7 linked regions of the Homo sapiens genome follow. The protein of the gene in region 1 purifies or fractionates together with the protein of each later gene. This does not show direct contact. Each region holds a gene or a part of one and is shown in the gene's direction. Other genes may lie near its edges.

Region 1 (3,500 bases):
ATCTGAAGAGGAAGGGAGATGAAGCTGGGTGCCGAGGAGGAGGAAAGGTTAGAAAGTGGCCTGAGCAGCTCTATAAAACGATTCACTTCATTTCTTTTGTTTTGTTTTGTTTTAAGACAGAGTCTTGCTCTGTGGCCCAGGCTGGACTGCAATGGTGCGATCTCAGCTCACTGCAACTTCCAGCCTCCTGGGTTCAAGCGATTCTCCTGCCTCAGCCTCCTGAGTAGCTGGGTCTACAGGCACGTGCCACCATGCCCAGCTAATTTTTGTATTTTTAGTAGAGGCGGGGTTTCACCATGTTGGCCAGGAGGGTCTCCATCTCTTGACCTCGTGATCTGCCCGCCTCGGCCTCCCAAAATGCTGGGATTACAGGCATGAGCCACCGTGCCCGGCCTCACTTCATTTCTTCATCATAGCCTGCTATGCTGCTGCTTTCTCTTGGAAGATACTAATCAGTTCTAGGCCCTTTGTAGGTCAAATCTAAGATCTGGGGCAAATACCTGTTTTCATCGAAAATGACTTTTTCCTTAAATTAATGCTTGCAATTTTGTGCTATTTATTGTTGAAAACCAGCAGAATCTTGTACAGTCAGATGGAAATCTGCATGTCTTAGATTGTGGATCTTTAGGTATCTTTATACAGTAAAATCTCACTGACCACTGTATATGAACTAGTATTGTTCATAATACTTCATCAGTACTCATTCCTTGAAAGAACATAATCATCTTCCTAAGTCCCTGAGGGCATAAAAGACATCTAACTGAGTCTCCATCTGCACTCAGTGTGGGTCACTAATTTTACACAGGGCTTCAAAAAAAAAAACTTTAGTGTGACGCCGTCATGAAAAGTAGGTTGGTACGTTTTTAATCACAAAAATAGACATAATATTTGAAACCTGTAAATAAAAATATTTTACAATTCTTTGAAATTAAATATTTCAGACTGCTTTGCCAGCAACATGCTCAATTCCCGATCATCGCTCAAAGTGGTAAGTTTCTAAAATTTAGCACTGTGGGTTTTAAAGAAAGGTAAACATTTATGTAACATAAGGAATAGTCTAATTTTCTAGCCTCGTTGAATTAAAATACAAATGTTTGAGTTAAAATTTTACACATCTAGAAAATTGACAACTTCTTTGTGTACTATGTGATATGACTGACTAATTTTTTCTTCTTTATGAACAAGACCTATTCTCTTTGAACCATTCCCTGGTATCTTTCATTCTCCCTACGCTCACAGAACCAAACTAAGACATGGGAAAAAGCCTTGACTTTTGGGACTGCTTCTCTTCCATAAGAATTTTCAGTAGATAAAATTTTAAAAGTGCTGCACCTTCCCTGAGTGAAAATTCCCTAAGGATGCATGGTTAGCATTTCAGTTCTAATTAAGGCAGACTGGATCCTGGCTAACTGGAGTCATGGGGTATACTTTCATTCATGAGTGGAACAGCAGTGTCTTAGCAGCACTACATCTGCAATGTTCATTGTGAAGTGGAGTCAGGACCTCGTTGGAAGACTTCGTTCTGCGTCATGCCAACTGCATTTTATGGTGATAACATTCTCCAAATAGCACCTCTACAATCATTTTTCAGTCGTTACCCTTTTAACTCAGCAGGAAAGGCTATTACAGATACTTCTTTAAATCAGTGTTTATTGACAGGGAAAAGCACCAGCAATACACACTTAACCAAATCCTTGCAAATGTCATCTATTAAATATCTTCATCCTTATTAGTCTGTTTTACTTTGAATATCTTCTGAGTGAAATTGAGTGCATTCCCATATCTTTTCACCAATTATATTTGTTTTCCTATGACCCAATTTGTTCATTTTTCTATTCAATGAACCCTCTCCCCAGAGAGTTCCCCATGTGCCAATTTTTCTACTCAATTATTTACCTGTTTTGCATTAAACTTATAATATCTTTTTTAAAAATTAACCCTTTATCATAAGTGCTGCAAACACTTAGTTGAAGTTTGCCATATCTTTTGACTTTGTAAAAACTTTTGGCATATGAGTTGTATATTTCATGTAGTCAAACAGTAATCTTTTCCTTTATGGATTCCAATTTTTAAATGGTTTATATTTTTAGCTAAATTTTCAGGAGTGAAAAGAAAAAGAGGAAGGAAGAAACCCCTCTCAGGCAATCATGTACAGGTAATTTGACTTAGTTTTTATAGCTTTGCATTTCTTCATACAGAGTCCTTATTTAAACCAGTCTGAATGTCAGGTGAAAGGTACTTTCCAAATCGTCCAAACAGAGAGCCTTTGAAGAACATTCTTCATTTGTGTTCTCAGCTAAGGCTGCTCCTGAGGTTGCCTTTTTAGGAAGAATCCCATAGTCGGGAAGCTCTTAGATAATTCCTAGATGATAGAATCATGATGAGATGAGCATGAAAATGAAGCTGGAAGTTCCAAGCACATAACCTTCAGGAGGTGACATTCTCCGAGCTCCTATAAATTCCCTGGCACCAAACTAGTGAGAGCATCTGACCCCACAGGTGCTTACAGTTAAAACGGGCAGAGGGTGCAGTCAAACATCCTTATGGAGCCAAGTATTTCCCAGCTGCATGACCCACACCTGACCAAATCTGTAGCTCTTATAAATTTCTGGATTATGTATAAAATGTATGAAAATATTTTGGGGATTTGAGTTTTTACACATCAGCACATATAAGCTAAATTCATATGCGCCAGCAACCTTCACCTCCTCCTGTTTATACAAGGGGTGCTTGTCAAACACCTCTTAATGTTTTATAATACAAAACAAAAATATATTTGATGTTTACATCTAAATATGAATATGGGGTTTTTTTGTTTTTTTTTTTTTTTGAGACAGAGTCTCTCTCTGTCACCCAGGATGGAGTGCAATGGTGTGATCTAAGCTCACTGCAACCTCTGCCTCCTGGATTCAAGTGATTCTCCTGCCCCAGCCTCCTGAGTAGCTGGGATTACAGGCATGCACCACCACGCCTGGCTAATTTTTGTATTTTTAGTAGCAACAAGGTTTCACCCTGTTGTCCAGGCTGGTCTCGAACTCCTGACCTTGTGATCTGCCCATCTTGCCCTCCCAAAGTGCTGAGATTACAGGCGTGAGACACCGCGCCCAGCCAGGGCATGATTTTTACTGTAGGCATATCATTTAGTTATGCACAGCAAAAGACTGGTTTTCATTTTATGCAATATTAAAATCAATGTAATGCAATCTTGATTTTCTCTCCTAGCCACCCGAAACAATGAAATGTAATACATTCATAAGACAAGTGAAAGAAGAGCATGGCAGACACACAGGTTTGCGCTAAGTGTTGTCTGTAACAAATATGGCCTACAATACTTATAAAAATGTCAACCCACCTGTTTCAAACTTGGTATCCCGCCTAAATCTTTATTCTTCTAGGCTTGTGGTAATTAATGAGTATAAATCTTTATCGCAACTGTCCACTCTATTGTAATCCCAGCATATCAAGATAACTTAGGTTGGAATGGTCCATTGCATTCAGTA
Region 2 (3,500 bases), on another chromosome or scaffold:
ACTGTGAGCCACCTGATTCCAGACGTCCATCTGAAATAGTAAGTAAAGAGGGCACCTTCACTCTGCTCTTTTCATTCTTATTTTCCATCTACTCTGTTCACTCAGCCAATGCCTGGGCTAACACAGTAGAAGAGAAAGGGCAGCTTTTGCCTTGAGATTCATGAAGATGATGTTAACCTTGAGCAATACTCTTGAGAGTCTTTCCTGGGAACCCAGTTCAAGACAACTCAGCAGGGTGTGTGGTCCCATCAAAGAGCATAACCAGCTGTGGGTCCTTGGGTAAATCATCTAATAACATCCCTCCACTTTGGTGTTTTTTGACTGTAAAATAAGAAGTGGGTTTAGGAATTCATGGACTCTAAGGGCCTTCCACTCTTGACAGTCTACAGGTATCAGAATCTATGAACTTGTAATTGTGTCCTATGAACAATGGTCCTATTTTCAGGAATGGCCAAAGTAATTACTTGCAGTGAGGAATTGGGTCTTGCTCAGCACCTAGGATATACACTGAGGAATAAGATCTGGCTTTGCATGTGGGAGGTGGGTATTGACATGCCAGGCTCTCTGACACAGGTGGAGAACATGAAGATGAATAAGCAGAGATTCAAGATTTCATTTCCAGAAAATGAGAGGTTCACACTCCTGGAACTTTCACCACTTTTTCCCTTGAAAATGTTTGGGGTATGGCCATGATGCTTTAAATAGTTTCTCGCTGGTTCTCCTGAGGATTTTGAGTGCCAACAGGATGCAGCACACAGAAACTGACTAAGAAAATGCAGGGTTTGAGACAAGCTTTGATGAAAGAAATGCATTTTTAAATGAACAGTAGGAGGATGTTGCATCACCTTTTTGCTCTTTCATATCTGACCTGAGGAAGGCAGGATGCAATGACTCAGCAAGTCCTCAAGAGCCTCTTTCTTACAGGTGATCGGACAATGTAAGGTAATAGCTACAAGACATTCCCATGAATCTCAGGACCTCAGAGTGATTGACTTTAACTGCACCACAAGTTCTGGTATGGTAATCTGTTAAATTGCTAATTAATTCTTGATTAATACAAATTCAATCATACAGTGGTATTTGTCTCATCTATGTACATATGTATTCATATATATTCAGATGTATTCATGTATATCTATGATGTACATGAAAGAAAAGCCTTCATAGACTCCATTATTATTCATTCTCCAGAGAATAGAATTGAGACAAATTTCCCTGGTACTGGTACACCTTCTTTTAAAGAAATTCAACACATAAAAATAGAGATTTAGGAGAGGTAGGTTAGCCTCATTATAGATATAGGCTTTGGAGTCAGGCTTGCTTTAGCTTGAGTCATCATCTGCCAGTTGTATAGTCTTGGGAGGAAGTAAAGTCTTGGGACTATGAAGTAAAGGTTATGACACTTTCTATTTAAGACAAAATAATTGATGCTCAAAGAAGTTAAATGACTTGGCCTCAAGAACAAAGCCAAGATATTGTGAAGATGTGACACAATCCCAGGAGTATTAACTCTAAATTCCACAGCTTTTTTATTTATTTATTTTTATTTTTGAGACAGAGTGTCGCTCTTGCTACCCAGGCTGGAGTGCAATAGTGTGATCTCGGGTCACTGCAACCTCCACCTCCCGGGTTCAAGCAATTCTCCTGTCTCAGCCTCCCAAGTAGCTAGGATTACAGGCATATGCCACCACATCCAACAAATTTTGTATTTTTAGTAGAGATGGAGTTTCTCCATGTTGGTCAGGCTGGCCTCAAACTCTTGACCTCAGGTGATCTGCCCACCTTGACCTCCCAAAGTGCTGGGATTACAGGTGTGAGCCACCACGCCCAGCCTCCATACCCTTTTAATTTACATTTTCAAATAGAATTATCACAGGATTCCTTTTTAAAATAGCAAATCCAAATATGATATTATATACAAAAATGCAAGATACTGCCACAGGAGTTTGCATTGAAGAAAGGATGATCTGTATCTTCTCCTCTCTCTGGGCAAAACTCTATGTTAATGCTCTGTCTTCCCCCTTGGCAACAACAGGAAGAACTTATTAAAATATTAGTGGCCTGGTGCGGTGGCTCACATCTATAATCCCAGCACTTTGGGAGGTTGAGGCCAGAGGGTTGCTTGAGCCCAGGAGTTTGAGACTAGCCTGGGCAATGTGACTCAACCCCATCTCTATTATTTAATATATATGTTAATATATATATCATATTAATACCTAAATATATGATTATATAATATAAAAACATATGATATATTATATAATATATAAATATATAATAGATATTATATAATAGATAATATATATTTATATATTAACGAATGTCATAGTTGTCATATTTATATATATATGTTAGCACTTTATCAGTGGTACTGGTGAAGGCATCATGAGTAGGGGTCACAACATAGACATGGGGATCAGAAAGACTCGAAGGAAGAATCAGCAGTTTAGTTCGGTTGCCAAATGGCTGATTGATCTTGAAGCAGTTACTCAGCTCTTCCCACCCTCAATTTGCCCATCCTTAAAATGAAAGTTATTGTCATTCTTGCCACCAAGCCACCATTAACATTTCCAGCCCTTTACTGTGACACTGCTATCTTCTTTCTCCAGTCTCTTCAGCACTGGCCAATACCAAAGATAGTCCGGTCCTCATAGATTTCTTTGAGGATACTGAGCGCTACAGAAAACAAGCCAACAAAGCCCTTGAGAAGTACAAAGAGGAGAATGATGACTTTGCCTCTTTCAGAGTGGACCGAATCGAGAGAGTTGCAAGAGTGGTGAGTCTCCACTAAGGTTCGGTTGGAGTCTGAAGGCCCAGGCTCCAACCTGGCAGCAGGAACTGAATGGCATACCCTCTCCACCTGCCTCAATTGACTAGCTGCCTTTTAATTTGTCACTTTTGAGGCCATAAAAGACAGGCAGCAGGTATTTAAAAAATACAAAAAAATTGCTTTCCTCAAACACTTTTTTTTTTTTTTGAAGGATGGGTAGGGGAGTAGACATCTGACAGAGTAGGGAGAAAATCTAAAGAGGAAACAGGGAAAGACAAGAACATATGAGGGTTGTGTCATTGCAAATCATCCAATACTAACATTCTTGTACTATGATGGAAAACTGAAGTTCAGAGAAATTACCTCACCACACCCAGTAATGTGCCTATAGTTAGATGGTTCCCTGCTCTCTCTACAAGGACCCAAGTACTTTCACCCAGAGCTGTCTTGTAGAGCAACTGGTTGACATTTGCTATGCATTCAGAAAATGCAGCGTTAAATAGATTGTGTTGCATACAAGTAAGGAAATGAGTACCATGCAGTTGCTCAAAGAATGTTTGGACCCATGCGCACTGGAGTTTGAAAACATATTGGTATAGGAAAATGCAGGTTATAGAACAGTACTTAGACTATGGACCCATTTATATGAAACACTTAGATCTCCCTGTGTATGTGTAACACATCTAGGAAAACACTCGAAGAGGAAACACATCAAATAAATGAGAATGAA
Region 3 (3,500 bases), on another chromosome or scaffold:
TAATGACATTTTGGTCAGTGATGGACCATATACAAAATGGTGGTCCCACATTATGGGACAGATTATTACAGTATTTTTACTGTCCCAATGTTCTATGATTAGATACACAAATACTTAACCAATGTGTTAACAGTTGCCTACAGTGTTCAGTATAGTAACACACTGTACAGGTGGGTAGCCTAGGAGCAATAGGCTCTACCATATGGCCTAAGATGTGTAGTAGCCACACATCTAGGTTTATTAAGTACACTCTGTGATCTTCACATAGCAACCAAGTCACCTAACAATGCACTTCTCAGAATGTATCTCCATTGTTAAGTGATTTATGACTGTACTTTCTCTTTTCCTCTATTTATTCCCTAATCCAGCCCCTTCTCCGTGTGTGAGGTCTTGATCTATGTCACATTTGGCTATAATGAAGCTATTCTTATGTCCCATCATATTGATTAAAATGAAATGCCACATACAGAGCACAGAACAAAGTTACTAACCACTGAGTAGAAGAACAGCTCTAACTGTAAACAGAAAGTAGCATTTTGAACATGGACTCATTTTAAGAAGAGAAAAATGGGAAAAGCACATCAAAACTTGATCTCTGGAGGTCAGGCGCAGTGGCTCATGCCTGTAATCCCAACACTTTGGGAGGCCAAGACGGGTGGATCATGAGGTCAGGAGATCGAGACCATCCTGGCTAACACGGTGAAAACCTGTCTCTACTAAAAATACAAAAAATTAGCCGGGTGTGGTGGTGGGCACCTGTAGTCCTAGCTACTTGGGAGGCTGAGGCGGGAGAATGGTGGGAACCCAGGAGGCGGAGCTTGCAGTGAGCCAAGATCGTGCCACTGCACTCCAGCCTGGTCGACAGAGCAAGACTCCATCTCAAAAAAAAAAAAAAAAACTTGGTGTGTGGTGCATTGTAGACTCAGCAATGGAAATAAACCAACCTGTATTTATTTCTTTATTTATTTTTTTAGATGCAGTCTCACTCTGTCACCCAGGCTGGAGTGCAGTGGTGTGATCTTGGCTCACTACAACCTCCACCTCCCTGGTTTAAGCAATTCTCCTGCCTCAGCCTCCCGAGTAGCTGGGGCTAGAGGCACGCATCACCATGCCTGGCTAATTTTTGTAATTTTAATAGAGACAGGATTTTGCCATGTTGGCCAGGCTGGTCTCAAACTCCTGTCCTCAAGTCACCCCCCTGCCTCGGCCTGCCAGAGTGCTGGGATTACAGGTGTGAGCCACTGCGCCTGGCCCCAAGCTGTATTTTTAGAGTGCATAAACTCAGTATGAATTAACCAGGATAAAAAAAACATAAAACTCTGGGAAAATAAAACCTAGCCCATGTAAGGAATTACTACATTGGTGGTGTTGCTCTTATTCAATTCAGGTTAAAAAAGAAGTCGGCGATGTTTCCATCCTAATCAACAATGCCGGAATCGTAACAGGCAAAAAGTTCCTTGACTGTCCAGATGAGCTTATGGAAAAGTCATTTGATGTGAATTTCAAAGCACATTTATGGGTAATAATTGTTTCTTCTCATCATAAATGTAAAATTATTCTGGCATTTGGAAGTATTTTCCTCTTGCTCTTTTACAATATTATTAGCCTCTAAGTAAAGCAGAGACTTCTCAGTTTTGGACTTGTCCTGTTCTACACAGTTGTCCTTTTCTGATGCCACTTAATCTACAGCCCCCAGGACCTCTGCTTAGGGAATTCTACAAGGACAGAACTGTCCTCATGGTCCTGCTACCATGTATTGATTAGCTGCAAATGTTAGGAAATACTCCAGGTGGCTCACATATTTTCCTTAAAACAGCTCGGTGAGATAAGGGATCATAGAACTTAAAAGATTTGCTCCAGGCTACATAGCGAGCAACTGCACTTAGACAGGACCAGGGTAGCTTTGTAATTTGCCTAAGCTGGGACACTTTTGGAAGTGAAATTCAGCATTATTAATGAGCAAGTGTTAATCAGGTCTGTTATGGGCAAACCAAAACCTATAGTCACCTTAGTTAGTACCCAACCAGAGAAATTAGAGGTTCCACTGGTAACCCAGGTTACCACCTGCTACCAGCGCTAAAAGCACAGTCCTGACTTCTAAAGCCACCCACTCAATTCCAGAAGTTGCATGTTTCTGGCCTTTGCTGAGACCAGCCATCTCAGGCCTCCCCACACTATGCATGCACCCTCTTGCTGCCTCTCCCAGCTTTTATTAAAAGTTGTATTTTTATTTTACTTTATCATTTTATTTTAATTTTTTGAGACAGAGTCTCATTCTGTCTCCCAGGCTGGAGTTCAGTGGTGTGATCTCAGCTCACTGCAACCTCCAACCTCCCGGATTCAAGCGATTCTCGTGCCTCAGCCACCTGAGTAGCTGGGATTACAGGTGCGCGCCACCACACCCAACTAATTTTTTGTGTTTTTAGTAGAGACAGGGTTTCACCACATTGGCCAAGCTGGTCTTGAACTCCTGGCCTCAAGTGTTCCGCCTGCCTTGGCCTCCCACAGTGCTGGGATCACAGGACTTTTGACCTGTTTGGTTCCAGCCCTGCTCGTAGCTCGTCATTCCTGGGCAAGGCTCTCTCTTGGGAGTCTTTGCTGGAGATTTCTGAGCTCCTCCTCCATTCTCCTCACACCTTTCCACCCAAGTCTTCTTTAGCAGCCTTCAAATGTAATTTGGAATTTGTAGATTTTCTGTCCCCTATTTCCACCAAAAATGTAATGGTGCTGGTGCTATTCTTGGTGTTTTGTAAAGTTTTCAGGAGAAAAATGGAAAGATTCAGAATTTAGTGGCTACCATGTTCCTACAAGAACTACTGCAAATGATTTATCTTGTCCCAAATGTCCCTCTCCTTGGTGCTTGCTTATACTCATATATAGTCAGAATGAAGATAAAGACCATGGTCCCTGGAAGTCTCCACTCCCATGGCTTTGTGTTCTTTTTCTTTTTTTTTTTTTTGAGATAGAGTATCACTTTGCCGCCAGGCTGGAGTGCAGTGGCGCGATCTCGGCTCACTGCAACCTCCACCTCCCGGGTTCAAGCAATTCTCCTACCTCAGCCTCCCAGGTATCTGGGACTATGGGCGCACGCCACCACACCCAGCTAATTTTTGTACTTTTAGTAGAGACAGGGTTTTGCCATGTTGGCCAGGCTGGTCTCCATCTCTTGACCTTGTGATCCGCCCGCCTCAGCCTCCCAAAGTGCTTGGATTACAGGTGTGAGCCACTGCGCTTGGCCTGGCTTTGTGTTCTTTTCCTACCTCTCTGTTTTTCCCCAGGTGCCTTCATGGTGTCTGTCTCTCTCTTTTCTTCTTTTCTTCTTCTTCCTCTTCCTCCTTCCTCCTCCTCCTCCTTCCTCCTCCTCCTTCCTCCTCCTCCTCCTTCCTCCTCCTCCTCCTTCCTCCTCCTCCTCCTTCCTCCTCCTCCTCCTTCCTCCTCCTCCTCCTTCCTCCTCCTCCTCCTTCCTCCTCCTCCTCCTTCCTCCTCCTCCTTCCTCCTCC
Region 4 (4,058 bases), on another chromosome or scaffold:
TTTTTTTTTGGACAGAGTTTTGCTCTTGTTGCCCAGGCTGGATTGCAATGGCGCAATCTCAGCTCACTGCAATCTCCACCTCCCGGGTTCCAGCAATTCTCCTGCCTCAGCTTCCCGAGCAACTAGGATTACAGGCATGTGCCACTACGCCCGGCTAATTTTGTATTTTTAGTGGAGATGGGGTTTCTCCATGTTGGTCAGGCTGGTCTCGAACTCCCGACCTCAGGTGATCCACCCATCTCAGCCTCCCAAAGTGCTGGGATTACAGGTGTGAGCCACCGTGCCTGGCCAATTTTTACTGGAGTAAGGATGTTGATACCATCAAGCCTCACACTTCTGCTGAGATTATCAACTGTAGTTTTCCAATGTTGGTCTACAGGTGGGGACCATTCTGTAATATAGTTTCCCCACTCTGTGTTGATGTGAGGAAAATAAGAATAATAAAGTTTTATTGCTGGCTTTGAGGGAGAAGGGTTCTATGACCCGCCTTGGGGAAGAGAAATTCTAGCTTCTGTGGCCTGCCTTGAGAGAAGTGGAGCAGGAGAAAGACGGGCAGGAGAAAGCAAGAAAGAGACTTTGCTTTTGCAGCCTTTTTAATGTCTTTCAGTTCAAAGTACTCGGCATGCCAAAGAGCCATATTTGGGGCTATCTTTTTCTGTGCCAAACCAACAACACCAAACCAGAAAGAAGCAAGCATAGGGAATCCAGGGCTTCACTCAACCCATCCCTTCCTATGCTTTTCCTCTATCTCCACCCTGGGAGCAATTTTCTTTTACAGAACTAATGCAACTGAGCAGAGAAAGGCTGGCCTGTCCAGAGAGCAGATAGGACGCCCATATTTTATTTTCAGTTGTGCCAATGTCCTGCATGGGACTCCTGGAACTCACTGGATGCCCCTGTGCATGAGCTTCTTAGGCATGTAATAGAATTAACAGCAGTCTGCTTCTATGCAGGTAGGTATCCTGCAAAGAAACTTTGTATGAAATGTGTCTGCACATTGTACTCATTCTTGCATTGTTTACCCATGTAGTGACCTTCAAAAATGGCTTTGCAAAAGTCACAGGGGAATAACCGAGTTAGTAGGCACTTGTTTCCCCTCCTTCATCAGATTCTGCTCTGATTTGCTACATAAAGTTGTATAATCACCTGGAAATATGCACTGTGCTGCCACGTGATTTTCAAATGCAAATGAGCAGGTTAACAACCCCAGTGTTGCAATGTTCTAGCTGTAAATATGTTTGGATAACCCAGCAGAGCCATTTAACCTTTGGGAACAAGGCAACTAGCGTCTGGCAGCAGGAATCCAACCAGTGCCCTGAGTTCTGAGGCAGAGAGGAGGACAGAAGAAACAAGAGGCTGGAGATTGTCAAATTCAGTATCCCAGTTGGCTCTTGATTCTTGGTGAAACCATCCCTCAGCTCCTAGAGGGAGATTGTTAGATCATGAAACTAATTACCATCCTTTTCCTCTGCTCCAGGCTGCTACTAAGTTTAACCCAGGAATCACAGTCCGAGGAAATTGACTGCAATGACAAGGATTTATTTAAAGCTGTGGATGCTGCTCTGAAGAAATATAACAGTCAAAACCAAAGTAACAACCAGTTTGTATTGTACCGCATAACTGAAGCCACTAAGACGGTGAGTGAATTGTGTTTAACCTTGAAGTCACTTGGGATTTGTACTATCACTAGGAGTCCAGGCCTCACACACACACACACATACCACCACCAGCACCCACCACCACCACCCACCACCCACCACCATCACCCACCACCACCACCACAACCACCACCACCACCCACCACCACCACCACCATCCACCACCACCCACCACCCACCACCACCCACCACCATCACCCACCACCCACCACCCACCACCACCCACCATCATCACCCACCACCACCCACCACCATCACCCACCACCCACCACCACTCGCCACCATCACCCACCACCATCACCCACCACCCACCACCCACCACCACCAACCACCACCATCCACCACCACCAACCACCACCCACCACCACTACCACCCCTCACCACCCACCACCACCGCCACCCACCACCCACCACCATCACCCACCACCACCACCATCCACCACCACCACCCAACCACCACCACCCACCACCCACCACCATCACCCACCACCCACCACCACCCACCACCCACCACCCACCACCATCACCCACCACCTACCACCCACCACCCACCACCACCACCACCCACCACCACCCACCACCCACCACCACCACCACCCACCACCACCCACCACCACTACCACCCCTCACCACCCACCACCACCGCCACCCACCACCCACCACCATCACGCACTACCAAATATGTGATCATCAAAGGTAGAAGCTTACAACTTGTGGAAAGACAGATACCACTCTCTGGCCTGGGGTGGGAGGACAGAGTATGACTCGTCCTCAGGCAGGTTGGCTTCCTGGATGATCAGAGAAGTAGAATCTAGGGTGAAATGAAACAAAAGTAGATGGAGAAATCTCAACAGGACCAAGTAGAGAGGGAGAATTTAGGAATTTAGTTAGACTGCAGCAAAAGAATTCACTGGGTCTCTGGCCCTAGGCTAAAAACTATAGAACTCCAAACCTTTAATGGGAGGGGGTACTTCATGGGGCATGTCTAAGAGGAGTGAGGAATGAGGTTAATGTGATTCTACGGAATTAGACAGAAGTCTGTATGGCTGAATGTACTGGGTTTAACAGCAACGTTTTAGTTAGTTTTTGATATTATTGCAATGATGCACTCCAGCAGGAGACAAATCCTGGCAGGATGCATGGTTCAAAGAAATACCAATCTTTCAAGAGTATGTTTAAACAAATTTCACTATAAAAGACTATATCTCTGGGAATGTCAAGCAATTGGTTACTTTAGCAGAAAAAAAAAAACTAGCCATGTGACAACATGGGGATAAAGGAAAATAAACACAGTGGACATGTTATTTTTTCTGAAAGTAAAATCGAGCCATTTTCTTTCATAATCTAGTACAGTCATGTGAGAAATTCTGCTTCATGGTGATCTCAAGCAACAGTTTATTGGTGGTGTGGTACCCAATAGATTGTGGGTATGGTTGTAAATATACTAAAAAACATTAAATTGTATGCCTTTAGTGGGTAAATTTTATGGCATGTAAATTATATCTCAATAAAGCTGTTTAAAAAAGAAAAAGTAGGAAACAAAATAAACCAAATAAAAGTACTAAAATCACCCATAATTAATTCCACCATACAGAGATAACTGTTAACATTTGTTTAAGGTTTTCTTGTTTGCTTTTTCTAATTTGTAAAAGTCATATACGTTCATTAGGGGAAAAAGACCACTTAGAAATGTTTGCTTGGGCCGGGCGCGGTGGCTCATGCCTGTAATCCCAGCACTTTGGGAGGCCAAGGCGGGGGGATCACGAAGTCAGGAGATCGAGACCATGGTGAAACTCAGTCTCTACTAAAAAATACAAAAAAGTAGCCAGGCGTGGTGGAGGGCGCCTGTAGTCCCAGCTACTCTGGAGGCTGAGGCAGGAGAATGGCGTGAACCCGGGAGGCAGAGCTTGCAGTGAGCCGAGATCACGCCACTGCACTCCAGCCTGGGCGACAGAGCGAGACTCCATCTCAAAAAAAAAAAAAAGAAATGTTTGCTTGAAGAAGAAAGTGAAAGATAATTATAATCTCACCACTGACAGACAAACATTTTAACAGCTTGCTGTGTATCTTTCCAGACTTTTAAAAGACATAGATTTATATATAAACCAGTTTTGACAAAAATGGGCTAATACTATGCATACTGCTTTGTAACCTTTAAAAGTACATTGTGAATATATTATAAACATTCTTTCACATAAATGTTTATGATAGAAATATAAATATATTTTAAGTGAATGCTTTGCTCTCAAGTCAAAGATCAATATTCCTAACTTTACCGGAACCCACTAGAATTATTTGCTGTTGGGTCAGTTGGATGAACCCTAAGTATCTTTGGCTGCTTTTCAGGTTGGCTCTGACACGTTTTATTCCTTCAAGTACGAAATCAAGGAGGGGGATTGT
Region 5 (3,500 bases), on another chromosome or scaffold:
CCTCCCCCCACCCCACGACAGGCCCCAGTGTGTGATCTTCCCCAACCTGTGTCCAAGTGTTCTCATTGTTCAATTCCCACCTATGAGTGAGAACATGTGGTGTTTGGTTTTCTGTCCTTGCGGTAGTTTGCTCAGAATTATGGTTTCCAGCTTCATCCATGTCCCTACAAAGGACGTGAACTCATCCTTTTTTATGGCTGCATAGTATTCCATGGTGTATATGTGCCACATTTTCTTAATCCAGTCTATCATTGATGGACATTTGGGTTGGTTCCAAGTCTTTGCTGTTGTGAATAGTGCCACAATAAACATACGTGTGCATACGTCTTTATAGCAGCATGATTTATAATCCGTTGGGTATATACCCAGTAATGGGATGGCTGGGTCAAATGGTATTTCTAGTTCTAGATCCTTGAGGGATCGCCACACTGTCTTCCACAATGGCTGAACTAGTTTACAGTCCTGCCAACGGTGTAAAAGTATTCCTATTTCTCCACATCCTCTCCAGCACCTGTTGTTTCCTGACTTTTTAATGATCGCCATTCTAAGTGGCCTGAGATCACTGTGGTTTTAATTTGCATTTCTCTGATGGCCAGTGATGGTGAGCATTTTTTTCATGTGTCTGTTGGCTGCATAAATGTCTTCTTTTGAGAAGTGTCTGTTCATATCCTTTGCCCACTTTTTGATGGGGATGTTTGATTTTTTCTTGTAAATTTGTTTGAGTTCTTTGTAGATTCTGTATATTAGCCCTTTGTCAGATGGGTAGATTGTAAAAATTTTCTCCCATTCTGTAGGTTGCCTGTTCACTCTGATAGTAGTTTCTTTTGCTGTGCAGAAGCTCTTGAGTTTAATTAGATCCCATCTGTCAATTTTGGCTTTTGTTGCCATTGCTTTTGGTGTTTTAGTCATGAAGTCTTTGCCCACGCCTATGTCCTGAATGGTATTGCCTAGGTTTTCTTCTAGGGTTTTTATGGTTTTAGGTCTAACATTTAAGTCTTTAATCCATCTTGAATTAATTTTTGTATAAGGTGTAAGGAAGGGATCCAGTTTCAGCTTTCTACATATGGCTAGCCAGTTTTCCCAGCACCATTTATTAAAAAGGGAATCCTTTCCCCATTTATTGTTTTTGTCAGATTTGTCAAAGATCAGGTGATTGTAGATGTGTGGTATTATTTCTGAGGGCTCTGTTCTGTTCCATTGGTCTATATTTCTGTTTTGGTACCAGTACCATGCTGTTTTGGTTACTGTAGCATTGTAGTATAGTTTGAAGTCAGGTAGCGTGATGCCTCCGGCTTTTTTCTTTTGGCTTAGGTTTTTCTTGGTAATGTGGGCTCTTTTTTGGTTCCATATGAACTTTAAAGTAATTTTTTCCAATTCTGTGAAAAAAGTCATTGGTAGCTTGATGGGGATGGCATTGAATCTATAAATTACCTTGGGCAGTATGGCCATTTTCACGATATTGATTCTTCCTACCCATGAGCATGGACTGTTCTTCCATTTGTTTGTGTTCTCTTTTATTTCCTTGAGCAGTTGTTTGTAGTTCTTGAAGAGGTCCTTCACATCTCTTGTAAGTTGGATTCCTAGGTATTTTATTCTCTTTGAAGCAATTGTGAATGGGAGTTCACTCGTGATTTGGCTCTCTGTTTGTCTGTTATTGGTGTATAGGAATGCTTGTGATTTTTGCACATTGATTTTGTATCCTGAGACTTTGCTGAAGTTGCTTATCAGCTTAAGGAGATTTTTTACATTTTTTTTAAAAAAGTACTTTAACAATATTGCTCTTCTGTCTTCTGACTTTCATTGTGACTGAGAAGTTTTTTGTTAATCTTATGATTTTTGTTCTTTGAATAATGTCCTTTCTTCTCTGAGGCTGTTTTTAAGATTCTCTTTCACTGGTTTTCAAGAATTTGATAATGATGTGCCTCTCTGTAGTTTTCTTCATGTTTCTTTTTTTCACGTTCACTGAGCTTCTTGGATACGTGTGTTTATAGCTTTACATCATGCTTGGAAATAATTTGGTCATTATGTCAATTATTTTTTTCCACCACCAATCCTGCAGGACTTTAATTATATATATATGAGGACATTTGATATTTTCCACAGTTATTTCATGCTGCATTCATTTTTTTCCGTTTTCTTTTATGTTTTATTTTAAATTATTTATTTTGATGTATTAAAATTTATCGGTCTTTTTGTAATGCAGTGCCTAATCTGCTGTTAACTCCACCTAATTTTTTTAATGTTTAGTAGTCCAATGTGGATCTTTTTTATATTATCTATTTCTCTCCTGTGTTCATGCTTTCCTCTAACTTCTTGAATATACCTTGTATATTTTATATGTTTCTAATAGATGCACATTTACCTACTAATTTTTTTATCAGTGTTGTCTCTTGGTCTGTTTCTACTAATTTATATTTCTCTTCATTATTAGTCGTATCGTCCATTGCATGACTATTCATTTTTCGTTGAATGCCATGAATTGTGATTTTATATTGTTGAGTTTTAGATTTTCGCTAGGGTATTACTTAAAATATTTGGAGTTTTGTTCTGAGATGAAATTATTTGGAAACAATTTAATACATCCAAGCCTTGCTTTTAAACTCTTTGAGAATAACCTGTACTTTGAGGCTAATTTTATCCCACTACTAAGGCAATATTCTGCAGTATCTATCTGATGGCCTCTATATCAGGAGAGCTTTTCACTCTGGTTTTGTTAGTGGAACACAAAACATTACCATCCCTATGAGAGCTCCCAAAATTGCCAGCCTGCTCCTTTCTAGTCATTATTTCCTAAGTCTTGGTAGCTTCTTCACATACAGGCACACTGATCAGTTTTCACCCAAAGGCTTTTGGGAAAACCTCTACAGCTGTCCTGACCTCTCTCTATCTATGTAGCTCTCTTCTGTCTGATACTCTGCCCCACAAACTCTGGGTGCCTTTGCCTATATTTACTCTAAACTTTATCACCTTATCTTGGTGAGACTGCTGGGATCTGTTTAGCTTCCTTTTACTTATCCCGTGACCAAGAAAATCTCTCCAGGCAGTGAGCTAGGCACTTGTAGGGCCCATATCATTTGCTTCCCTTTTCTGGGGTCACTGTCCTGTGCTGCCAGTCGTCCATCATGGCCAGAAACAGAAGTCCCTCTATTTTATTTTCTTGAAAATAATGGTTGTACATCTCTGTCCATTGAAATAGGGTTTTTTTATTTTTTTGTTTTTTCAGTAACAGTTAAAAAGTCATTCAGAGCCGAATTGGCTTAATTAGGGCAATCAAACTAGGAGTGACTAAAAAGGAATGAAAGTTATTTTCTCATGCAGCCTGTAAACTAACTCTTTTCTTGCCAACAGGTACAGGACACAATATCCAATCCTAGGCCTCCTATATGATGACTACGAATATATACCACCAGGTAGTGAAACACAGACTATTGTGATTGAGAAAACAGAAGACAAATACACTTGTGTAAGTTCACTTGGGCATTTTTAGCCCTATTTTGACG
Region 6 (3,933 bases), on another chromosome or scaffold:
AATCCCAGCTACTCAGGAGGCTGAGGCAGGAGAATCACTTGAACCTGGGGGGCAGAGATTGCAGTGAGCTAAGATCGTGCCACTGCACTCCAGCCTGGGTGACAGAGTAAGACTCCATCTCAAAAAAAAAAAAAATTGCACCTGTACTAAACATATACAGACTTTTTTGGTGATTACCTCCTAAACAATACAGTATAACAACCATTCACACAGCATTTCCGTCGTATTAGGTATTATAAGTAATCTAGAGATTTAAAGTATGTGGGAGGCTGTGCTTAGGTTATATGCAAATACTATGCCATTTTATATCAAGGACTTGAACATCCATGGATTTTGGTATCTGCAGAGGGTCCTGGAATCAATTTCCCATGGAGACTGAGAGATGACCGTACTACCCACTTCGCAAGCAATGTCTTCTTTAATGTACTGAACCATCCCATTGTTCAGAGGAGAAACTGAAGCTCAGGGCTTTGAATAACTAGACCAAGGAGGCACAGCATGGGAGTGGGACATGAAGCACTCTACAATTAACCCTTTCAGGACAAGGCCCTGTCTCCCACACCCATCTGCCCAAAGGCTCTCCAGGGCCCCCTCCTCTTGGGTGTACCTTGACAAGAGACCTAGATTTTAGCTCACTATGCTGTCTGCAGTCCTGGATGGTCCCACTCCAGTGTCTGGTGCTCTGAGATGGAGTCAGCATTAGTGGCGGATGTGGAGACTGGGGGGACCTGTCTTCACTGGGGTAGACAGAGGAGATGTGGACTTTGCCCCCCATGAGCCCGGCACAAACCCAGAGCCGCCAGCAGGGCCTCGAGGCATCAGTCCCGGGCTCATGGGCTCCCTGAGGTGTTTCTCCTACTGTTTTCCGTTCCCCTCCTCCCTTCCATGCTGAGGTTGGTGGGGTGGGGGTGGGGGTGCCCACGCACGGAACAGCCACCACTTCTAACTATCGCCTGAGCCCTGATCTGCTGTCAGCTTCCACGTAGTCTCAGGGTCACAAAAGTCCAAGAGGCCTCTTGGGAATGTGTCACCTTCCAGCGTGGAGTCACACTGAGGAAGGAGGAGGGGAGGGCAGCCAGGGGGGTGGCGATAGGGAGAGAGTTTAAATGTCTGGCTGGCTCTGAGCTTCAGTCAGTTCCCACTGCAGCGCAGGTGAGCTCTCCTGAGGACCTCTCTGTCAGCTCCCCTGATTGTAGGGAGGATCCAGTGTGGCAAGAAACTCCTCCAGCCCAGCAAGCAGCTCAGGATGTTCCTGAAGGCCGTGGTCCTGACCCTGGCCCTGGTGGCTGTCGCCGGTGAGTAGAAGCTGTCTTTGGATGGCACTCCTGGGCTGCTGCTCTGAGTAGTGCAGGATGGAGGCTGAGCCAAAGCAAAAGGACACTTCTGAGTGCCCATCAGCCCCCAGCTGGACATGAGGTCTGCCTGGCTGCCAAGTGGCTCACAGGAGAGCTGGCCCAGTCCCAGTGGTGGGCCCATTGGCATTGGTGCTATACCAGTTTCACATATCCCTGTGGCTTCCAAAAAGCTAAGCTCAGACAGGGAAAATGGCAGGTTGAGGCACCCCCACCATCATCCAGTCTGCAGCTCAGAGCTGGAGCAGAGGGGCCACACAGGAGACGGGGCCTCATGAATTGCTCTCTGTTACCACCCAGGAGCCAGGGCTGAGGTCAGTGCTGACCAGGTGGCCACGGTGATGTGGGACTACTTCAGCCAGCTGAGCAACAATGCCAAGGAGGCCGTGGAACATCTCCAGAAATCTGAACTCACCCAGCAACTCAAGTAAGAGGGACTACAGTGTGCGGTGGTGACGGGGAATTCTTAAAGGCCATGCAATGTACTGGCAAGGGTTGAGCTTAGAGACAGGAGCCCTGAGCTTAGGATACCCACTGCCCTGCCACTAACTGGCCGGGCCTCTGAACCTAGGATCCACATATGTAAACCGGAAGTTTGGACCGAATAATCCCTGCCATGTCCTTTTGCTTTGACGTTCTAGAGTTTGACAAATGGCCACATCCTATCATTCAGGCTCATGGAAGAGAGGGAGGGAGGAAAATGTCACGTGAGCTGATTTCTAATACGTTTCAGAAAGACAGGCCCCAGTGGAATCAAGGGGAGGGAGGTGGGAATATTTGGGAGGCCCCTGGGCACAGGCAAGGAAAGCAGCACCTTGTGCCACTGGAAGACCCCAGCAGAGGTCAAGAAGACAACATTGTGTTACACAATGTGATCCTATGGCCCAGAACACTCCCTCTGGGAAGGACCTCAAAGTCCCACCCTCTGCAGACAAGGAGGGGAAAGCAAACTGCTGGAGGTGACATGGTGGGTAGATTCTGAGACAAACTATGTGGGAGATCCTGAGATAGAAATTCAGCATCGTAACTTAGTCTGTGACACCCATCCTCTCCAATCTGCACCACCATAGGGAGGGTGAACTCGGTACCTCTGAGCACTCACCTGTCCTAGCACGTGTGCATAAGGCGAGTGGTATACAAGCAGACAAAGTCTTGCCGTGTAAATGCCAAATGTAACGTGGCCTCCTTGTGCCCTTCCCCACAGTGCCCTCTTCCAGGACAAACTTGGAGAAGTGAACACTTACGCAGGTGACCTGCAGAAGAAGCTGGTGCCCTTTGCCACCGAGCTGCATGAACGCCTGGCCAAGGACTCGGAGAAACTGAAGGAGGAGATTGGGAAGGAGCTGGAGGAGCTGAGGGCCCGGCTGCTGCCCCATGCCAATGAGGTGAGCCAGAAGATCGGGGACAACCTGCGAGAGCTTCAGCAGCGCCTGGAGCCCTACGCGGACCAGCTGCGCACCCAGGTCAGCACGCAGGCCGAGCAGCTGCGGCGCCAGCTGACCCCCTACGCACAGCGCATGGAGAGAGTGCTGCGGGAGAACGCCGACAGCCTGCAGGCCTCGCTGAGGCCCCACGCCGACGAGCTCAAGGCCAAGATCGACCAGAACGTGGAGGAGCTCAAGGGACGCCTTACGCCCTACGCTGACGAATTCAAAGTCAAGATTGACCAGACCGTGGAGGAGCTGCGCCGCAGCCTGGCTCCCTATGCTCAGGACACGCAGGAGAAGCTCAACCACCAGCTTGAGGGCCTGACCTTCCAGATGAAGAAGAACGCCGAGGAGCTCAAGGCCAGGATCTCGGCCAGTGCCGAGGAGCTGCGGCAGAGGCTGGCGCCCTTGGCCGAGGACGTGCGTGGCAACCTGAGGGGCAACACCGAGGGGCTGCAGAAGTCACTGGCAGAGCTGGGTGGGCACCTGGACCAGCAGGTGGAGGAGTTCCGACGCCGGGTGGAGCCCTACGGGGAAAACTTCAACAAAGCCCTGGTGCAGCAGATGGAACAGCTCAGGCAGAAACTGGGCCCCCATGCGGGGGACGTGGAAGGCCACTTGAGCTTCCTGGAGAAGGACCTGAGGGACAAGGTCAACTCCTTCTTCAGCACCTTCAAGGAGAAAGAGAGCCAGGACAAGACTCTCTCCCTCCCTGAGCTGGAGCAACAGCAGGAACAGCAGCAGGAGCAGCAGCAGGAGCAGGTGCAGATGCTGGCCCCTTTGGAGAGCTGAGCTGCCCCTGGTGCACTGGCCCCACCCTCGTGGACACCTGCCCTGCCCTGCCACCTGTCTGTCTGTCTGTCCCAAAGAAGTTCTGGTATGAACTTGAGGACACATGTCCAGTGGGAGGTGAGACCACCTCTCAATATTCAATAAAGCTGCTGAGAATCTAGCCTCAACTGGTTGCCGGATGAATCCTCCTTGCAGCTGGGGAGGTGGGGAGGTAACCATGACTGGGCAGAGCTTAGCAGCGGCCTGGCAGGAGACACCCAGGATTGGGGAGATGAGACTGCAGGAGAGGTAAGGGCCTGGTGGACTGGAGGCGAGTACATGGGGAGTCCTCTAAGGGGAGGCAGAAAAAGATGTCACACATT
Region 7 (3,500 bases), on another chromosome or scaffold:
AATGCCAAGGCCGAGGGTGTGGTTATGTCCTGTATGTGGGAGTAGTGACAAAACAGCACATGGTGTGATAGAATGAGATGGACTGGAGGGGGAGGTAAACATAACTGTGTCAAGTCGGTGACTCATGAGATCAAGAGGTCTAACGGCTCCTCGCCAGGAATCATGAGCTCACTAAGGATGATCATGAGAGAGGACAAGGAAAGGAAGCCAATGCTGAAGCTGAGGGAATTACACAAAATAGTCCAGATACACACATGCAGAGATTACGGGAAAGGTGCCAGCCACTGGGGAAAAATCACTTGGTATCTGAAGAGAAAAAAGTATATTAGGAAAACACACTTCAAGCTAAGAAGAGATTGGTTGCAAAGTTTTTTCAAATTGTAATATTGAAGTACACACCTCCTAGCTTTGTGGTATGGCAAGTGGGTTATAGCTAATTTAAAATTAACCCAAAAAATGACAAAATTTTGTCTTCCAGTTCATCTTAAAACTAAATTCCTGAAAACAATCTTGAGTACCACAATTTTTAAAAACTAATTACACTGACATTTCCAGTTCCTGGGTCCTAGTTATCAAGGCTGTGTGTGTGTGTGTGTGTGTGTGTGTGTGTGTGTGTGTACAATATAAACCAAATACAACCAGATCCATTAACACTTGATGAATTTAGGTGAAACTCTCACTTACGTATGGAAAATCCCAGAAAGATCTGGAGCTGGAACAGAGGATTCTGCTTGTATTCCATGGGCTTATTATTCAACTGTGGATCAAGTTAAGGTAAAATACAAATCATTTGTTTTGTGACACTTCCCAAAATAGACACACAATTGAAGGAAGACAAGGTTAGTGTTTTCCTGTGGTCCAATTCTACGTTAAAATCCTAGGAAAATAAACTGTTTGCAATCTACTTTAGCAACTATGCTGCTACCTATGACACACAAGACAAAAATCTAACATTTCCTAATATGATACAGCTCAAAGGCCTTTCAAGATATTTGGGAAGTTTAGATTTTTGTCTTGTGGGTCACAGGTAGCCACTGAAAAATTGACCAAGAATGGCAGTATATTTGCATTTCAGATCCTTCATTCTGGTGGAATGAAGGAAGGCTTGGAGGGGGAAGAGACTGGAGGTTGGGAGGCCGTTGTAATACGTGAGGCAAATTTCAAGGACCTCTACTGTAAGGAGGGAGAAAAGAAATGGAGTCGGTTATAGATAGGTGGGTGAAGTGCCTGAGTGAGCCGGGGGAAGTAGCTCCTTGATAATTCAGTGTTCTGGCTCAAACAAATGAGTAAATCTGGTATTTGTGGTCCTATTTATTATTACACATTTCATTCATCTATGGATTTTTAGGGACTGCCATAGCGCTTGGCTCACACTCAAGAGTTCATGAGTTTATGGAACAAACCAACACTGTTCATTTGGGATTCTTTTAAAATCACTGCTCATTAGCTGAGCTAATTTTTGCCTCTGCAGACATTTCTGTTATGTCAGCATCACCCACATGACCTACCTACTACTCACCATTGTTCCAATTTAACTACTTCAAGTGAAAAGTTACTAAATTGGCAGTACCACATTGGGCAAAGTCTGTTACTTCAATTGGTCTCTCCAAAATTCCTGAGGCCCTGGGTGCAAAGTCTCAGTTCTCTGAAATCCTGACCTAATTCACAAGGGTTACTGAAGATTTTTCTTGTTTCCAGGACCTCTACAGTGGATTAATTGGCCCCCTGATTGTTTGTCGAAGACCTTACTTGAAAGTATTCAATCCCAGAAGGAAACTGGAATTTGCCCTTCTGTTTCTAGTTTTTGATGAGAATGAATCTTGGTACTTAGATGACAACATCAAAACATACTCTGATCACCCCGAGAAAGTAAACAAAGATGATGAGGAATTCATAGAAAGCAATAAAATGCATGGTATGTCACATTATTCTAAAACAATTTTTCTACTTTTTTATCATTTTCTCTTTCAAATAAAATTATTTTGGAGACCATTCATTTGTTTTGTCTTAAAATAAACCACTTCTGCCTCACTTTGTATGTCAGGTAGAATCCTGTTCAAAACAAAAAGGGGACTATGTTCAAAATCATTTGCTAATTTATTTTCCAATTCCAAAATCTCATTTCCTTTGAAATAATCCAAAACTAAGATTAAGGCTTTTGGTGCAAAGTGCCTAGAAAAGCAATGTGATATTATTGACTTTAAAGTATCCATTTCTCTCATTTGTAGTAAAATAAGTCCTATTACATCAAAAAGATTCTTTACATTAACCTAATAATCATATTTTCTTTGAAATAGCTATTGGTTTAAAATATCCTGAAAAGTAACATAAAACCATATGCTTTCCCTAGCTATTAATGGAAGAATGTTTGGAAACCTACAAGGCCTCACAATGCACGTGGGAGATGAAGTCAACTGGTATCTGATGGGAATGGGCAATGAAATAGACTTACACACTGTACATTTTCACGGCCATAGCTTCCAATACAAGGTAAGAGCTATCCATGGCAATTACTCTTGCTCTGTTTGAAAATGTTTTAATACAAGTGAAGAAAATATTTTCTCAGAGAGACTTATGAAAAAAAGCTGCAAAGAGTACAGCCGGTGCTTCATATCCGTGGATTCCCCACCCAGGATTCAATCATGGATTGAAAATATTCAGGAAAAAATAATTCCACTAAGTTCCAAAAAGCAAAACTTGGATCTGCTGCACTGAGTACTATGTTGAATCCATGCAAATGAAATGATATGTAGGCACTGTATTAGGTATTATAATAATCTAGAGATGATTTAAAGTATATGGAAGGATGTGCATAAGTTAAATGGAAATATGCCATTTTATATAAGGGACTTGAGCATCCATGGATTTTGGTATGGGGGCATTCCTGAAACCAATCCTCCATAGATACTGAGGGATGCCTATATAAGGCACAGCAATTTCAATTGACACACTAGCCTTTGTTACACATTGAGCTCTTCCTAGGATTTGCATTTTTAACTGAATTTTCATGGAGTTCTGCTCAGATTCCTGATTAAGGCAACTGAGCGGAATTGCTAACAAAGAGGGTAGGAATGTTCACATAATGATGGATGAGAGTAGAGACCACAACAAGACTTTATTATAACCCTTGCCCTGCCTGTTCTAAGTTCTGTATCTTAAATGGCCCATGGTGAGCAAGATCAGTTAGGTGACAAGCAACTGGTCTGTACATCTCAATCTTACTTCTATTCTTTCTCAGTACTGATTTCAGCAGAAGCCAGTGGCCCTCCTGGAAATGCTTTTTCCTTATGCTTTGGGCTAATTTAGAAAAGGCAGAAGTTATCAAAAAGCATACTGCAGAAAGCCTGTTTTGTTACCTGCATTTTGTTTTACATAGATATATTGTATTCTTAGTGGGCTTTCAATTCTATCCTTGCAGAAATAGACTATTGTCACCCAACTACTGTTTCCAGCCGAGACTCCCTGAAGTGCCTCTGGTTTTTGTCGTTTTCATCAGCCTC

The links.
Region 2: the proteins of PHF11 (region 1) and HRG purify together in Homo sapiens (affinity purification with mass spectrometry; one large-scale study listed by BioGRID and IntAct). This does not show direct contact.
Region 3: the proteins of PHF11 (region 1) and SDR16C5 purify together in Homo sapiens (affinity purification with mass spectrometry; one large-scale study listed by BioGRID and IntAct). This does not show direct contact.
Region 4: the proteins of PHF11 (region 1) and KNG1 purify together in Homo sapiens (affinity purification with mass spectrometry; one large-scale study listed by BioGRID and IntAct). This does not show direct contact.
Region 5: the proteins of PHF11 (region 1) and POF1B purify together in Homo sapiens (affinity purification with mass spectrometry; one large-scale study listed by BioGRID and IntAct). This does not show direct contact.
Region 6: the proteins of PHF11 (region 1) and APOA4 purify together in Homo sapiens (affinity purification with mass spectrometry; one large-scale study listed by BioGRID and IntAct). This does not show direct contact.
Region 7: the proteins of PHF11 (region 1) and CP purify together in Homo sapiens (affinity purification with mass spectrometry; one large-scale study listed by BioGRID and IntAct). This does not show direct contact.

Annotation. Positions count from the first base shown.
Region 1 is NC_000013.11:49,519,953-49,523,452, forward strand, and holds part of PHF11 (PHD finger protein 11), read left to right. Parts: intron 1-941; coding exon 942-988; intron 989-2,090; coding exon 2,091-2,155; intron 2,156-3,222; coding exon 3,223-3,289; intron 3,290-3,500. Other genes in the region: SETDB2-PHF11 protein, read left to right, coding at 942-988, 2,091-2,155, 3,223-3,289. UniProt on the Homo sapiens protein: Positive regulator of Th1-type cytokine gene expression.
Region 2 is NC_000003.12:186,669,014-186,672,513, forward strand, and holds part of HRG (histidine-rich glycoprotein precursor), read left to right. Parts: coding exon 1-38; intron 39-924; coding exon 925-1,015; intron 1,016-2,609; coding exon 2,610-2,776; intron 2,777-3,500. UniProt on the Homo sapiens protein: Plasma glycoprotein that binds a number of ligands such as heme, heparin, heparan sulfate, thrombospondin, plasminogen, and divalent metal ions. Binds heparin and heparin/glycosaminoglycans in a zinc-dependent manner.
Region 3 is NC_000008.11:56,310,176-56,313,675, reverse strand, and holds part of SDR16C5 (epidermal retinol dehydrogenase 2), read left to right. Parts: intron 1-1,387; coding exon 1,388-1,519; intron 1,520-3,500. UniProt on the Homo sapiens protein: Oxidoreductase with strong preference for NAD. Active in both the oxidative and reductive directions. Oxidizes all-trans-retinol in all-trans-retinaldehyde.
Region 4 is NC_000003.12:186,716,101-186,720,158, forward strand, and holds the start of KNG1 (kininogen-1 isoform 1 precursor), read left to right. Parts: upstream 1-1,258; 5' UTR 1,259-1,442; coding exon 1,443-1,637; intron 1,638-4,004; coding exon 4,005-4,058. UniProt on the Homo sapiens protein: Kininogens are inhibitors of thiol proteases.
Region 5 is NC_000023.11:85,282,166-85,285,665, reverse strand, and holds part of POF1B (protein POF1B), read left to right. Parts: intron 1-3,348; coding exon 3,349-3,463; coding exon of another isoform or gene 3,464-3,487; exon of another isoform or gene 3,488-3,500. UniProt on the Homo sapiens protein: Plays a key role in the organization of epithelial monolayers by regulating the actin cytoskeleton. May be involved in ovary development.
Region 6 is NC_000011.10:116,820,505-116,824,437, reverse strand, and holds APOA4 (apolipoprotein A-IV precursor), read left to right. Parts: upstream 1-1,133; 5' UTR 1,134-1,246; coding exon 1,247-1,295; intron 1,296-1,652; coding exon 1,653-1,779; intron 1,780-2,556; coding exon 2,557-3,571; 3' UTR 3,572-3,738; downstream 3,739-3,933. UniProt on the Homo sapiens protein: May have a role in chylomicrons and VLDL secretion and catabolism. Required for efficient activation of lipoprotein lipase by ApoC-II; potent activator of LCAT. Apoa-IV is a major component of HDL and chylomicrons.
Region 7 is NC_000003.12:149,176,830-149,180,329, reverse strand, and holds part of CP (ceruloplasmin precursor), read left to right. Parts: intron 1-667; coding exon 668-774; intron 775-1,698; coding exon 1,699-1,915; intron 1,916-2,350; coding exon 2,351-2,490; intron 2,491-3,500. UniProt on the Homo sapiens protein: Multifunctional blue, copper-binding (6-7 atoms per molecule) glycoprotein. It has ferroxidase activity oxidizing Fe(2+) to Fe(3+) without releasing radical oxygen species. It is involved in iron transport across the cell membrane.